Linked DNA regions of Homo sapiens: region 2 is linked to region 1. The links come from fine-mapping of genetic effects on gene expression. Tissue or cell type: whole blood. Region 1 holds a variant in brackets; the other region holds the start of a gene. All regions are shown on one strand. Distances are between the middles of the regions.

Evidence for each region. PIP is the estimated chance that this variant, and not a neighbour inherited with it, causes the effect.
Region 2: it holds the start of PEPD, and the variant in region 1 is fine-mapped to the expression of PEPD in whole blood (TOPMed, PIP 0.93).

What each region holds. Positions count from the first base shown.
Region 1 is chr19:33,383,513-33,391,591 of GRCh38, reverse strand. PEPD (peptidase D) reads left to right here. Exons shown (of 15, transcript NM_000285.4): 13 at 113-297; 14 at 3,511-3,702; 15 at 4,111-4,642. The coding sequence ends at 4,248. Among named protein-coding and RNA genes, the nearest start is that of CEBPG, 14 kb to the right of the region's middle. RefSeq lists an enhancer at 1,253-2,155. The variant T/C (reference allele first, on the strand shown) is at 4,459.
Region 2 is chr19:33,517,885-33,525,983 of GRCh38, reverse strand. PEPD (peptidase D) reads left to right here and starts at 4,193. Exons shown (of 15, transcript NM_000285.4): 1 at 4,193-4,240. The coding sequence starts at 4,224. It overlaps LOC105372370 (a long non-coding RNA gene), which reads right to left and starts at 4,050. Exons shown (of 3, transcript XR_935918.3): 1 at 3,970-4,050; 2 at 2,488-2,563; 3 at 207-585. RefSeq lists enhancers at 2,966-3,928, 3,929-4,892 and a silencer at 3,984-4,183.

The DNA.
Region 1 (8,079 bases):
CCTCAGGCCCTCCCACCACAGCCAGTGTGAGGGCTTCACATCTCCCAGCCCCTGGCCCTGCGGTGTTGGCTGCTGGGCTCTGTGGCTCACGGCAGCTCCCTCTGGCCCACAGGTGTCTGGTGGCCTGACATGCACCGCCTGGCTGACCGCATCCACCTGGAGGAGCTGGCCCACATGGGCATCCTGAGCGGCAGCGTGGACGCCATGGTCCAGGCTCACCTGGGGGCCGTGTTTATGCCTCACGGGCTTGGCCACTTCCTGGGCATTGACGTGCACGACGTGGGAGGCTACCCAGAGGTCAGTGTGGACATGGCAGGCGGAGTGGCCTGCCCATCAGCTGCCGCTGAGCCTGACCCCCAGGGCAGGGTGGGACTCTAGGAGGCAGCAGGCGTGTATTGGGATGGCAGGGATGGGCCCCATGGCTCCCTGTGGTATACGGAGGCCATGAGGAGGGGGGAATCGGGACCCTGGCCAAGACAGGGGTGCATCTGTGAGCATTCCACAGAACTGGACATAGAGGCGGTGCTGTCTGCCTGCTGGGCCCAGGTGTCACCTGTCCAGAAGGTGGCACACAGTCAGGATACGGTGCATGGGGCCCCACAGGACAGTGGTGCTAAGGACAGGTCTTCGTGATGGAGCTACGTGGCACCCCTCACGTCCTGCCGCCTCTGGCTTCATTCAGACCTGGGGCGTGGGGAGTTGATGAGGCCCCACCCACTGGCGACTCACCCTGGCCCCTCACAAACCCGGAGCAGCCCTGCTCTGCCGCTGGTTCGCCCTCTCCTCCCAGGCCCCTGGGCCGCACACCTGGGACCCTGCAGCCTCCTCATCCCCAGGCATTCTGGGGCCCGTTGGCAGATAAGGGAGGCTGGGGGCCATCTCCAGACAAGGTTCCCCGGCCCTCAGAGGACCACCCAGAGGGTAAGTGAGGCTTGGGGAGGCCCAACCGGGCAGGTGGCTACGGCCTCTCGGCTGGGCGGCTGGGGCGCTCCCATCCCTGCCCTTGGCGGGCTGCCCAATGCAGGGGGCTGATTGTGCAATCGTGCACGCCCTGGGGCCCCCCAGCCAGTTAGCCAAGACAAGGCTCAGCCTCTTGGCTGCAGGGTGTTTTGAAAGCACTAAGAATGATTTTTTGGCAGGGTGGGGGCAGTGGGGGGAATTGCTTAAGAGAAGCATTATTATTCAATTATTTTTTTCCTCAAGTGTAAACAGTTAAATTTGGAGAAACAAAATCAGTTTTAATTTCCTAATGTCTATTCATCCCATTGTGTGCAGGGAGCCAAGAGCTGGGCCTTCCAGACATTGTTAGCTGAGGTTCGTTATTCATTAGTCGCCAAAGCGCTTTTTTTCCACCAGCAAAAATTGGCAGCAAACTGTTTTCATCTTTTCCAGTAAGCACCTCTTTGTGCTCAGAGTCTATTCTTCTGACAGATAAACATTGTGGAAAAAATATGGCTTTTCCTATAAAAGTCATTTGTTTTATTTCAGGCCTGCAGACACATCTGGGGCTCCTCTGCTTGGAGCCCAATAAAAGTTGAGGCCTTGTCAAGCCCTGTGCCCAGGCAGAGGCGAGCATGGGCGCGGTGAGGGCAGGACCCCTCCCCACCCCTGAAGGCTGCGCTTCCTGGGCCACAGGGGCTCGTGCCCTCCCCACATGGCTCTGCGCTCCACCCGGCCCAGCCCTTCCCATTCTCTTATGGCGCCTGCGCCCTGTTCTCAGCAGGTCCCCCGGGCAGGCCCCTAGAGCCAACACCCTGAAGGGGCAGCTGCGCCACTGGGCTGAGGCAGGCCTTGCCCTGTGCCCGCTGGGGATCCCTTCTAATCTCCCCCACCCCACTTCAGTGGTGGACCTCAAGATTTCAGAGGGGAGGAAAGTTCGTTTCTCTGGGGAAACAAACCTGCCCCTCAACCGTGTACCATGGAGCAGCCGGGGTGGGCCCATGGGGATGGAGGGGTGACTGGAAGGAAGGAAACCTGACGTTGGCAGGCCCTTGCTTCCCCCAGGCCCCTGGCTTCGATTGCTGTGGGTGGAGACAGGGACGGACACTTCAGGAATAGCATGAAGGAGAGGGATGGGCGGCGGTGGGGTGGGGGAGCCCAGCACAGGCTTCGGATGACAGGGACGGGAAGGTCCTGGAGCAGAGACCCTGGGACCCCCAGCAGCTTCTGGGCAGGAGACAGGCCCCAGCTCGGTCCACATGCACCTCTCACCTGCGCAGAGGGACTGTCACTCCATACGGTTCCTCAGCCACGGGGCATCCCTGCCCTCCGGCCTCAGCTCCCGGTCAGCGGCCCAGAGGCAAGTGTTGTGGGGCCGGGGCCACACCAGCCAGGCTGTGGTGTCTCCTCATCGCCTCCCGCCTGGCCTGCTCTCTCCAGGTCAGCGTGGCTGTCCCTGCCCTCCGTGGAATCAGTCACAGCCTCTCTGGCCGTGCCCAGCGTGGAGGCCGAGCCAGCCTGTTTCTGGTTACCTTACGTGAACTGCTAATTGGAGTCTGATGTTCTTGGCCCCCAAACAGTCAGAAATGACAGCTCCCGCTCCAGCAGCTGGGCTTCCTGGGGAGGGAGTGCAGCCGGGCAGGGCAGGCTCATCCCCTGACCAGAAAGCATACTCGTGCCCACTGGCTCAGAGGCCCTGGCCGCCGGCCGGATGGTGCCCCGGGGACCTGAGGCGAGCAGGAGCTCTCCTGTAATTCCCAGAGCACCCGCTGCCCTCAGCCAAGCTGAGGCCCCCTCAGCTGTGCCTGTGAGTGGACAAGGCCAGGCTGGGTGTGCACTGGGGCAGTGTGGGGCGCAGACAGGGGCCCCTGCAGGGAGCGGCTCTACCACTGTCCCTCAGGCGTTCTCCAAGGCTGGGGGCTATTTCCCAGGGCCCTGCCGTAAGGCCCCGAGCTCTCCTCTGGGAGCCACACCTGCCAAGCCACGCGCACACGGCACATTTGCACTGGCGCACTAAGGCTGGCAGACCCACCCTGATGACGGCACCTGTCCTCCCTGGACAGTCACACGGAAAATCTGGGCCTCGGCCTAGGGGAGCTGGGACCACGACTTCTGGGGCCAGTTTCTACTTGGGCTGCCTGGAAGGAAAGCTGTGGCCCCAAGGGGCTTCACAGCCGCCTTAAGAGCTTTTTTGGCTTCAGTGGTTTGGCATCTGCCACTCCTCTGGCCAGCAGCGGGGCCTGGCTAAGGGCAGCCCAACCCTCAGCCAGCCCCACAGGCCTGTCTGGGCAGCTTGCCCCGGGTGTGTGCACATGGGTGGCCACAGGGCTTCTCAAGCAAGCCCTAGGGTAGTGTGGCCAGGGACACTCAAGATCCAGGGGTATGTGCAGGGTGGAAGGTCTTATCAGGGTGCCCATGGCCCAGCACAGCAGGGGCGAGTCTAGGCTGAGGACCCCAATGGTCAAGAGAGCCCACGAGACTGGCACCGGCCCTCACATGCCCATCTCTCCTGATGAGGCCACGGTGAGCCCTGGAGCTGCTCATCAGGCCCCTCACCTCTGTTCCCCACAGGGCGTGGAGCGCATCGACGAGCCCGGCCTGCGGAGCCTGCGCACTGCACGGCACCTGCAGCCAGGCATGGTGCTCACCGTGGAGCCGGGCATCTACTTCATCGACCACCTCCTGGATGAGGCCCTGGCGGACCCGGCCCGCGCCTCCTTCCTTAACCGCGAGGTCCTGCAGCGCTTTCGCGGTTTTGGCGGGGTGAGTGCCCACGGGCCCCATTCTTGCTCCCAGAACATCTGCCACCTCCACTGCAGCTGCAGACTCCTTAGTCCCAAGACAGGGGCCCTAGTGACATCTTCCCTTGAGGTGGGCTTAGCCTGCCCCTTCGTGTGGTCTGTCACAGGATGGAGCCTCACCCCTCAGTAGGAACAGACAGAGATCCTGCAAAACCCCTGCCCGCTCCAGGGGCTCCCATCCACCTGGCAAAGACAGGGTGAGCAGGTGACATGGGCAGATGGCTCCATGAAGGAGCCCGGAGGCCACCCGTCTCCCAGGGAGTGTCAGCTGCTCCCATCCCATGGTGGGGTGGGCCTGGAATGGGCCCGGCCCTCTAGCCTGGCACATGAGGCTGCTCTATGATAATGTGTGTCTGTCGGCTTGACCCAGGTCCGCATCGAGGAGGACGTCGTGGTGACTGACAGCGGCATAGAGCTGCTGACCTGCGTGCCCCGCACTGTGGAAGAGATTGAAGCATGCATGGCAGGCTGTGACAAGGCCTTTACCCCCTTCTCTGGCCCCAAGTAGAGCCAGCCAGAAATCCCAGCGCACCTGGGGGCCTGGCCTTGCAACCTCTTTTCGTGATGGGCAGCCTGCTGGTCAGCACTCCAGTAGCGAGAGACGGCACCCAGAATCAGATCCCAGCTTCGGCATTTGATCAGACCAAACAGTGCTGTTTCCCGGGGAGGAAACACTTTTTTAATTACCCTTTTGCAGGCTCCCACCTTTAATCTGTTT[T/C]ATACCTTGCTTATTAAATGAGCGACTTAAAATGATTGAAAATAATGCTGTTCTTTAGTAGCAACTAAAATGTGTCTTGCTGTCATTTATATTCCTTTTCCCAGGAAAGAAGCATTTCTGATACTTTCTGTCAAAAATCAATATGCAGAATGGCATTTGCAATAAAAGGTTTCCTAAAATGGTCCTTTGTGCGTGGCTTCCCCTTTATTCCTTTGCAGATGAGCATTTGGGACCCCGTGCACCCTGAAAAGATGGCTCACCTGGTGTCAGTATCAAGTCAGTTCCAGGAAGATGGTGCTGGCAGCACAGGCCCTCTAACGGCTGCTTCTGCCTCAGACTGGCCTGGCGGGACAAGGGCAGAGTCCTCCCCGAGGAGCCTGCTTTGAGCCCCTGGGACTCGGGGCTCTGGTGTCACCCTGTCACTTGCTGCAAGGTTTCCCAAGCCTAACAGGCATCAGAACCACTGGGGCATTTGGTAAGAGATTCCTGGGACCCCCACAGACCATCTGACCCAACGTCTAGGGGCAATGGCCCAGGAATTGTGTATTTCACAAGCGCCCGCCAGATGCTCCTGACAGACAAGTGTGAGAAGTACTCCTAGGCAAGGTGGTTTTAGCTTGTCAGTACCAGCGCAGCCCGAGGTTTGAGGTGGGGCAAGCAACGCTGCAGGAAGATCCTAGGCACTCAGGTCAGACTGGCCAAGTCACCCCGCGCCATGCCTTTGCGCAAGTTAAAGGGCGGACTGATTTAACACAAGTCTTTCTGATACGGTCACTGCCTCCAAACTAGATTTCTGAAGGTGGTAGAATCATGTAGCGCTTGAGCTGCAGATATTTAAAACCTGAGACTTGCAGGGATCTCTTGTCCTTGATTTCTTTTTCATGTGGGACACACTAGCCAAAGCCAGCATCTGTCGGAGACACTGCCAACGAAGGCAGCGCCACAGCCAATTTGCAGAGACCGCTTGTCCTCCCTAAGTGTAGTCCTTGAACAAATTCTACCAGGCAGGAAGCCAGCCAGGGCCCAGCCATGCCTGGTGAAGTATCTGTCCTTGCCTCTGCTTGTCCAGTTCTCCCAGGGTCCCGCAGAACAGCCCACCCCTGGAGCTGGTTTCTAGAATTCTGTACACCATTCCAGGTTTGCCTTCTCACAGAGCTCCCATCCAAGAGTTCCCAAGCCAAGGTGAAAGATGACAAGTGAGAAGGATGCCACAGATGAAACCATGAGGATGAGGGGGTGGAAAACTGTAGCTTAAGAGACGTTTTCAGAAGTCACCAAAGGCCAGCACAGTGGCTCACGCCTGTAATTCCAGCACTTTGATCACTTGAGGTCAGGAGTTTGAGACCTGCCTGGCCAACATGGCAAAACTTCATCTCTATTAAAAATGCCAAAATTAGCTGGGCGTAGTGGCACACACCTGTAATCCGAGCTACTCCGGAGGCTGAGGCAGGAGAATCTCTTGAACCCAGGAGGCAGAGGTTGCGGTGAGCCAAGATCATGCTACTGCACTCCACCCTGGGCAACAAAGCAAGACTGCCTTTTTAAAAAAAAAAAAGTCACCAAAGAGTTTAATACAAACTGATTTCTTCCTATGGTAATAACACAGAAGTGCTTATAAAGTGGTCACATTAAAATAAAAGCCAATTTCAGTTCCAAATCACCATTTATCTTATCTGCTTCTTAGATTTATAACATCCATTCTTTAAGGTTTTCTGCTGGTACAGATACATTCCCTAAGCTATCCATCTGTGACATTGAGCAGTAGCAATTATGTCTTTTTAGCCAGGCGCAGTGGCTCATGCCTTGGGAGGCCAAGGCTGAAGGATCGTCTGAGGCTGGGAGTTCAAGACCAGCCTGGGCCAACATAGGGAGATCCCGTCTCTTAAAAAAAGTAAAAATAAAAAACTAGCTGGGCGTGGTGGCACACGCCTATAGTCCCACCTACCCTGGAGGCTAAGGTGGGAGAATCGCTTGAGCCCAGTTCAAGGCTGCAGTGAACTATGATCGCACCACTGCGCTCCAGCCTGGGCAACAGAGCAAGACCCTGTCTCTTAAAAAAAAAAAAAAAAAAAAAAAAAAAGTATCTTCTGAGTGTAAGGAAAGTTGAAGAGTTCACCAAGCACTTCTCCACCCCTGTTCCCCTGTGACAGACACAGTCTGGTGTACAGGGCTTTAATTTCCACCACTTTCAGGATAAAACCACTCAAAGTCAGGATGAAGCTCAAAATGGACAGTTTAGTTCTGTTAATTGAGAAACAGAGCTGAGTGCACCATACATCTTTCTCCTTCCTTTCAGACATTCCATACCAAAGCTGCCCGTTCCACATAAACATCTCTGATTATCAAGAAGTGAACAAAAAGGAGCAAGGAGAAATCTCTTATTTCTATCTAAACACTTTTCAGAGGGTCACTAGGAACAGAGAGGTCACGTTTTTCCTGAGCCAGTAGGTCAAAGGGTGCTCTTTAAAAAAAAAATTTTTTTTTTAATAAATAGAGACAGGAGTTTGCTATGTTGGCCAAGTTGGTCTTGGAACTCCCGGCCTCAAGCAATCCTCCTGCCTTGGCCTCCCAAAGTGCTAGGATTACAGGCGTGAGTCTCCACCTGTCTCAAAGGGCATTCTTTGGAAGCACAGGTCTAGAGGGCCCCAGTAGCTACCTCCGCTACCCCCATGTTTGTACCTAACTCTGTCTCTTCTAACCTCTGCAGAAATTCATGTAGCTTCAGAAATCCATTAGAGACCCCGCCAGAAAGCTGTATAGTGTGCTACAACCCTTCTGAAACTCAGTGTCTAGGTATTCATTCAATACATAATTGAGCATCTACTCTGCCAGTGCAGGATACAAACATGACCCCTCCTTCCAGAGCCTCTAGTCTGCTGCGAGGCCTTCACCTCAAACCAGCATGAACAAATATATTGTCTCAAACACTGCAAAGTGCCATGAAGCAAGCAACAGGATAGGCTTAGCGTAGACAGCCAGGGGGCTGAGACAGAGAGGGAACTTGTTAGTGAAAAGCCAGAGGAGATGCTTCATTCCAGACAGAAGGAGCTGTCCCAGGAAGGGCAGAAAAGAGCTTGGAAAAGCCCTAGAGCCGAAGTAGAGTGACACAGGAGGATGGAGGGAAATTAAGTTGATGAGGGGAAACGCCACGACACAAGGAGACTGAGTCTCACCCCGGGTGCAATGGGGAGCAACAGATGGTTCTGGAGAGCAGGCAGTGACGCTGCCATCCAGGAACACCAACGAGGAGCCAGTCACCAAGTCCAGGCAAGCGAAGAGGATGGCTCTGCATGGGGGTCGGGGTGGGTGAAGCAGACAGGTACCGGAGCTCCATTTAGAAGGTGGAAGTGAAAGGTGGCGATGTGGAAGCGCATCTGGTTTTAACAGCTTCTTTACAGGGAGGGACAAGAGGTGGCGTTTGGGCTGCAAAAAGTGTAACGCGTGACTGTTTCACTGACAATCCTATTCCTTTTCCAAGTCCAATTCTATAACCCCCATTTCTCTAGATGCCTCTATACAGCTTTCAGGCCTAGAGCTCTGTGAGGAGTGGGATACTGCAGTAAAAGAATACCTAGGCAATGGTGTTCTCTGAATGTATGTAAAACTGTAAAACGCTTATGA
Region 2 (8,099 bases), 130 kb before region 1:
GAAATTAGAAATTTCATCCTTTTTTTTAATCAAGATCTTGATATGGGATAATAAAATTACCAATGAATAGCCCTGCACAACGTGGGAAATGTAATAAAAGGTGAAGGCAATAAAAGGTGAAGCTTCTAGCCACTCCGCGGTGATACCCACTCGTAAGAAATAAAAGTAATTATCACCTGCCCAACCTGGTCGGCTCACTCTGCATGTGCTGAAGAAAACCATTTCAGAACTTTATTTCTTATATTGAATGTCGATAATTGGATGTATTTATAAGTCTCTCTGGAAGAAAACAGCTTGTGATTTCAAGATGGGAAAACAGTCTTCGAAACAGTGAGAAACAATATATTCCCCATTTCCACACACACAAAAAGAGCTTGTTTCCTTCGATGTTTTCAGGTGCTGTTGGAATGATTTGCTTTTCCGAAGCCACCGTTCCATTTCTCATCTTGAATTGCCTCGTAGACCCCAGCAAAGCATTCAGCAGGGACCACTTCATCTGAGGCGGTGATGGGGGCTTCCTTGGGAAGGCCCCTCAGCTCTGCCTGCCTCTTTTCTACAGGAAGATAGATGCCCAGGTGGGCTGGGCTGGGGGAGAAAGGAGAGGAGGAGTAGAACGTGATGTGGGGGCTCCTGTGAGGAGGGGGGTTGATGGATGGTGGTGACAGCTGGGGTGTAGGCCTGGAGGAAGGAGCAGGCCACACAGGCCTTTGGAGTGGGAGAGCTGTGGCTACCTCTGCAGGCCCTGCAAAGGCCCAAGGCTGGGATCTGCCAGAACCAGGATAGAGAGACGGTCTCCTGGGCATTCCACACCCATCACGCTCCTTGCTTTCCCACTTGGGAAGACACTGGGTTGCCATATGCCACCCTGCCCCTATCTCACACCCACAGTCCCCTCTATTCTTCCTCTTCTGTTTATTTGGTGCTGGCTTTCTGCATCCAGTCTTCTATTCTCAGCAAAAGCAAACAATCGCAAAACACCCAAATGCCATCTTGTGTAGGGCTTTGACCATCTGAGGCTGGCGGCCCCGTGCAGTGGCTTTATTGGCTCTTATTGGCTCTTTTCAGTTCTCTCTGCTAATCCTCCTGAGCTCCTGCTGGAGAGAGGGGTTTGGATCGGCAGCTTGCAGCTCAGAATCCCCCAGGATCTCCCCATTAGCCAAAAGCAGAACCCTCGAAGCCCCGTTCTGAGGCCCTCCCAGATGGTGGACTCCCCAGGGACAGTGTGGAGGGCTCCTCTACCTCTGTCCCCAGACCAAAGATCCTCTAGGCAAGGGCAGGGTCTGGATCCCTGGCCCTCACAGCATGGCCAGTCCTGGAGTGGCACTGTGGGCAACAACTGGGTGGTGCAGGGCAGAACCAGCATCCAGGCTACCTCCAGTGCAGTCCCACAGAGCCTCTGGTAGACCAGTGCCCTCAATCCACAGCAGAAGATGGACAGGGCTCTTCCCGGGGACCTCCCCTTCATGGCCCAAGGGTGGCTCATGAGTCAGAGCCTAGCAGGCCGCCACATCTGGGCCTGCCGTCTCCAGGCAGCCAGCTGTCAGCAGCGTCCACGGAGTTGCAAGAGTGGGGGCTAGATTGTGGGGAATGGGTGGAGGAGGGAAACCTGGCTGGACACAGTGTCCCGGGACACAAGAGGTGTCTTCCCAGGGTGAAGCTTCTTTTGCAAGGCCTGACGGGAGTTGGGGGGGCCCTTCTGGAGAATAATGCTATGCTGGCTACCGGGCTACCAGGCTGACCGAGTGCAGACATCTACCAGCCACCTGCAGGGCTTGACGAGAGGAGACTGTTTCGGCCACAAGGGCCTGTGACCTCGGAGGCAATGCCGCATGAGAGTGCTGCCTGGCGCGCTGCCTTGGCTGATTTACACACTCCCACTTCGACTCTCTAAAATCAATCTTCCCCCAATTGCCTCCTGGCTCCAGCAACGTCCTGGGTCTGCCCTGCATAAGTAACTAAATGGTCTTCTCCCATATTCTGGGCGGCTTCTGGAGCCCCTGCCACAGCCTCTGATGGGGAGGGGTGAGGGGTGAGGGGCAGCCCTGCCGGAGCCCCTGATGGGGAGGGGAGAGGGCAGGGGACCTGGGTGGGCAGGGGTCATGGGCAGTGCCTCCATATTACTGTCCACAAACAAGGGAGCTCCACTCAGTTGGTGGGTGCCTTCCTTCCATTATTTTGTGTTTGGGATATTGACTTCTTTTTCATATTAGTAAGCACTCAGAGCTGGCAGCTGGCTTAATTTTGACATATTTTATGTCAAAAGAAATGGTGGGAGGCAGGTGCAATGAATGAGCTGGGGGGTATGTTTTCCTTCCTTGAAGGCGCATGGAAAGCTCATTCTGCTCACCCTTTGTTATTATGTATTTTTTAAAGCGCCACTTACTAGGGAGTTGAGTTTCTTAAGCTGAAGGCGGACCTACTGCTTAACTAGGGGTGTTAGAAGTTCTCAGGGGCCCCTAGGCCAGGCAGTGGGGTGTGAATCCTTACCTCTGTTCTTCTTCCTGGAAACTGGCAAGAGGGTGGAGAGAGCTCCTCTTGGACCTTGCCTGGAGGTCAGGGACCCCTGCAAATTGTCCATGTGTTGTGGGAAGGGGTAGAAGGGATGAGGCCCCCCCTCTTCCATTAGCTCTCGTTTTCCTTATCTGGGACCGGGAGGTGGGAGGGGCTGTCTGGAGGGGCCACATTCCTCCTGGCAGCTTTGGTCTCTGGCTGTGCCTGCAGGTTTGAGTGTAAAACCCTCTAGCAGCCCTGTGAGGTGGCCCCATTAGCTCTCTCCTGACAGATGAGGACAGCAGGGATGGTACTGGGCTTCCAGGTAACTGTGCCACGTGCCCTTCACTACCCTGCTTATGGCTGGCTCCCTTGCTCCTATTTAAGGGGCCTATTCTCCTCCCTGCTTCATGGGGACAAACAGAAGCTGCTTCTCCAGTCATAGCCCCTGGCTCCCACCAGCCTGGCCATGGTGACCCACATCCTTGTTTCGATAAAGAAACAAGAAGCATCCCCCAACCCACAACCTTTGATCAGAAGCCACTTCCAGCTGTGGGACAGCTGCAGGGTGGGGTCAGGAGCCCCACACGCCTATCCTGGGCCACCCATCCACCTGTCCACACACATCTGTACACCACACACATCTGTACACCCTTGGCGCCAGGGACGCCCTCCCCCAACAGTGTGGGGCCCCCTTCCTTCACAGGGGCAGTGAGGTCACTCCTCAGGGTATGGCTTCATGAGCTCAGCCTCTGTGTGAGCACTCTCTGGCCTCAGTTTCCTCATCTGTATAATAGACTTAAAGATAGTCTCGACCTCATAGGGCTGTGGTGAGGTTTCTATGAGCTCACATGTGCAACGCATTTGGGCCGTGCTTGTAATGCCCTGACTCTGTTGGCAGTAGGGAGGGCAGCGTCTGCTGCAGGGTCCCTACACCTTCTCTGCAGGACTCTGCACCCAGTACCAGTGCCCAGTGGGGCAGAGGAGTAAGCCTTCTGGCAGACTCTCCCTCCTAAACCCTTCTCGGCTGTGCCCACTTCTCGCCTGCCCTCCTCCCTGGCTTCCCTTCCTCCAGCTTCTCCATTCTGCAGCCCAGGAAACCTAGAAAAGATCCTACCAGACTTAACTCATAGGCCCCACAGTGGAGGCCCCGCAGGGTCTGGCCCTTGCTTCCCTTAGGCTGCCCCTCTCTCGCGCACATTCTCCTGGACGCTGCACATTTAGAGTCCTCCAGTTGCCCCACGGCCTTTGCTCAAGCCCTTTCCCTTCTTAAACAAAAATCGCCACCTCTGCCCCGACCCTAGCCTGGGTCAGTCTCCCTCCTCTCCTCCCACGTGGTTTCTTTATTCCTATGTGTTCTTCTCCCGGGTGGGCTGGTACGCCAGATCGGGGACTGAACCAGAATCAAGATGTCCTCTGCTTCAGGACCTCCCTCCCACCACGAAAAGGCTGCAGATGCTGCCCGCTAACCCGACCTACTGTCTGCAGCCGGCAGCCCGCTCATTTATCCTGGCCGAGCTCTTGGGCCCCCAATCTCCGGGAGCCCCGCCCCATCGGGGCTCCGCCCTTCCCCAGGTACCGCCCCTTCCCGTCCCGTGGAATTTGGCTCTGGAGGAGGTGGGTCAAGGACTCCATGCCCCGCCCCCTGCCCCGCCCTTACCCCGCCCCATGCATTGGCACCCGGAGGGGCTCAGCTGACGCCGCACTTCACGTGACGCCGGTGCCGGGCGAACATGGCGGCGGCCACCGGGTGAGTGCTGCGCCTCCCTCGCTCTTTCCCGCTGGCGTGGAGAGGGGCATGGGTGTCCCGGCCGGACCGCGGGTGAGAGCGTCAGCCGGGGTCGCTGAATGCCGCGGGTAGGCGCCTCTTCCCGTTGGCCCGGAGTCCCAGCGCCGGTCGGCGAGCTGCACGCTCCGAGTCAGGGTCAGCGCGGGGGCCGCAGCTCCTCTCCACCCTCCTGGCTGGCTCCGGCCCCACCTGCCCGCGTCTGGCGGCCCCACCGTGTGCGGCTGCGGTGGGGGCTGGGGTCGACACGCATGTTCGCTGCCAAGACCCCCGGGTAGGAGGGCGGCGTTGCGAGGACCCCAGGGACCCGGGCGCTTCCCGGAGGAGGCGGTATTCGAGACGGACTTGGAATTCCCTTTTCCCAGCAGGGCACTTCCCCATTTCTTTCAGGGGCCAAATGTCACCCCCTCAGGGAATCCTTCTCTAACCATCTATCCCACTTTTTGTGCCCTCATCATCACCTGATAAACTATATAGAGCATTGTTTGTACTTGTTCTTTATCTTCTCTGCATTTAGAGTGCAAGGGCAGGTATGTTACCTGCTTCTCAGTAGCCCGGTGCCTTGCACACAGTAGGTGCTCCATACTGGGCTAAATGAAAGAAAGCTGAGTGGTCGTAGTGGGAGGAAGGGTGGACAGATGGGTTCACCAGAGCGTTGGGCGGAATCTCCCAGATAGGGAGCATCTGAGCCCAGGGTAAGGGACAAAGGTTGAGAGTTCAGAGTGTTCTGGGGACAGGGGTGCATGCCTGGGGCTGGTTGGAAGGTGTGGTGTTCCAGGTGGCGGCTTCAGACTTTGCCCTGATGGGCTGGAAGGGTTTTGTTACAAGCTGCTTGATCTGTTTTTTAAAGATTAGGCTCCCCTGAGCTATGTGTGAGTTCAATGGGAGAAGGTGTGGGTCTGGTGGTACAGTGGGGTAGAGGGGGCATGGTGTAGGAGGGAGCAGTATTCCAGATGCCAGGTTGGAAACTGAGGTCAGAATGGGGGATCTAGTGGACTGAATGCATCTCTCTTTTTAAGATACAGGGAAAATGGCAACAGAAAGTGGGTTCTAAGTTGGCCCCCAAGGTTGAGGGAGCTTAGAGCATACAAATCAAATATTTTGTGGGCACCTGCTATATTCCAGGAATAGCAGTGGGTCTTCCCTTAAGGTACTCACAGGCCACTGGAACAGATGGACACATGGGACTCTGTCATCCATCTGCTTGCCGTGTGGTCTTGCCATTTGCAAAGGAGGGGCATGGACTCTGAGCTCAGATAAAGTGTGGGAAGGCTTCACTTCCTGGGTGACTTTTGTGCTAGTCCTTCAGCAATGAGACTCCCTTCAGGTAGAGAACAGTGCAGACAAAGTCTCAGATGGGTGTCAAGGAACTCAGGGTCAGATCCTTGAATCCAGCCTGTGACCCTTTTAAAGGGTAGACTGAGCAGGCTGGTGCCCAGCTGTGGGTGTGCTGTCTCTCTGGTTAGGCTGGCTCGGTGCTCACAGGGAGTGCCAGGGGTTGCATTTGGGTTCAGGATTCCAAGCTGGCCTGAGACCTGCTGCTCTCCTGAAGGAACCAAGCTGATGTCTGGACGGGAGCAAGTCTGGAACTGACTGGATCCTGGAATGAGAGCTTTTCTTTTTCTCTTTCTTTTTTTTTTTTTGAGACGTAGTTTTGCTCTTGTTGCCCAGTCTGGAGTGCAATGGCATGATGGCTCACTGCAACCTCCACCTCCCAGGTTCAAGCGAGTCTTCTGCCTCAGCCTCCTGAGTAGCTGGAATTACAGGCGTGTGCCACCACACTCAGCTAATTTTTTGTATTTTTAGTGGAGATGGGGTTTCACCATGTTGGCCAGACTGGTCTCGAACTCCTGACCTCAGGTGATCCACCCGCCTCCGCCTCCCAAAGTGCTAGGATTACAGGTGTGAGCCACCACGCCTGGCCCCAGAATGAGAGCTTTTCTAGCAGAACCGATTCTCTGGGCCACCACACAGGGTGGGTGAGGGAGGCAAAACAGAGTGGCAGGTCTTAGAGAGGTCTGCTATTGAGAGGGTGTGGGAGCTTCCAGAGCCTGGCAGTCTCCTTGGGAAGAGCCATCCCAGTCTGGTATGGGGCTTTCCCATGTACTTTGAGCCTGAGGTTGACCCCAGTGGCTTCCTTTAGAGCAGAATGATTAAGTGTGTTTCCCGCAAAGCTCAGCTCCTAGCCACACTCACAGAACAGATCATAGAGTCAGGCATAACGAGGCATGATGCCAGCAAGTCACGGCCATTGCCGTGGGCTCACTGGGAGTTGGGTTTGGTTGTCTGTAGAATCCTACCAGAGCCTGGGACAGAGGGGGTCCATGAGAGTTCCAGGTGACTGGGGTGTGCCCCATATGATTTGGGGAGTAGGGGAAGCCCTAAACTAGCATCTCAGATTTAATTTGAAACTCAAGAATCTACTCTGAATGCATCTCTCTTTTTAAGATGTGGGGTGTTTCAGGGTTGATCCTACTTTCTCTTGCTAGCCTGGGTGTAGGCTTCAGGTTGAGACAGAGTGCGCTGAGGTCACCTCCCATCCCCTCATGGAGAGGGGTCCCTATCCCATGGCACTTGGTGGCACTGCTGCTGTCTCCTTAAGCAATGCTTTGAGCTTTCCACAGACAGGATTGATAATTTGAAATCTGTCAGCTCCAGCCAGACCTGTCTGCATCTGCTCTCCCACATGGCTTTTTCCATTCCCTTCTTCCCTTGCACACTCACCCAACTAGCCCTGGAATGTTCTTGTCCTCTATATGATTCTTCACGTATTTGCAGGCCCAGCTCAGATGGTTCCCTTTCCCAGAAGCCTTTCCCAGCCCTCGGGTAAAGGTTTAGTGCTCAGAACTCCAGAACACTCAGTTTTCTCCCCAGCAGTACACTTTTACACGTCTGCCCATTGTGGGTTAGGAGTTGCTTCCCTTCATGCCTCTCCTAGCATCCTTAGAACCCCTGGGGTTCTTTTGTATCCGCAGGGCCAGTCTGTGGCTGCCCTGTGATTGGTGCTTGGTGAAATGAATGAAAAGGGGATTTACTCTAAATTAGTCCAGCATCCCATCCTGCTTTCCTGGGAGACTCCCAGTGATTGAGGGAAGGAGTCATGGTGGGGAATGGGGACAGAATTCCGAGGGGTAGGATGAAGAAATAGCCTTAATTCTTTAACTGAGTGGCTCCCAGGAGCTGTTGCAGAGCCAAAAAGAGGCAAAGGTGAACTGCCCTGGACGTGTACCCCTGTTGAGCCGTAGGTTACACTGGAGTCAGCATTCTTCTGGAGAGTCTTCTGCAGAATTCACATTCTGGGTCAAGAGCCCAACCCCACAATGTGAACCTTGTGCTCCAGGAGCAGAAGACTCAGGCCGACTGGGGGCTAGGGACGGGTGGGCCTATGGGAGGCAGGCTGGCCACTGAGTATCCCTGTGCCTTCCCTGGCTCTTCCCCAGGTCCTGACTCCACACAGCTGTCTCTTGGTTTCTGTGTATGCTTGGCACCCCTATCCGCCCCAGGAGACAGAGGTGCAAGGTGGAGGTTGCTGGCCAGTTGCCTCGAGGTCCTGTTCCGCCGTGGCAACCCTCTCCAGCCTGGCGCTTACGGTCTGGTGCCCAGTGGGCTGCCTGAGCATCTGTCTGGTGCCTGGCCCCACGCTGGAGGCTGAGGGGAGGAGGTGGCTGGTCCTTGGCTGGCCTCTCCTACTGGGAACTTAGCGGTGTGACCCTGTCTAGAAGTGGCTCCACATTTCATTTTTTTTTTTTTTTTGAGAGGGAGTCTCACACTGGAGTGCAATGGCGCGATCTCGGCTCACTGCAACCTCCGCCTCCCGGGTTCA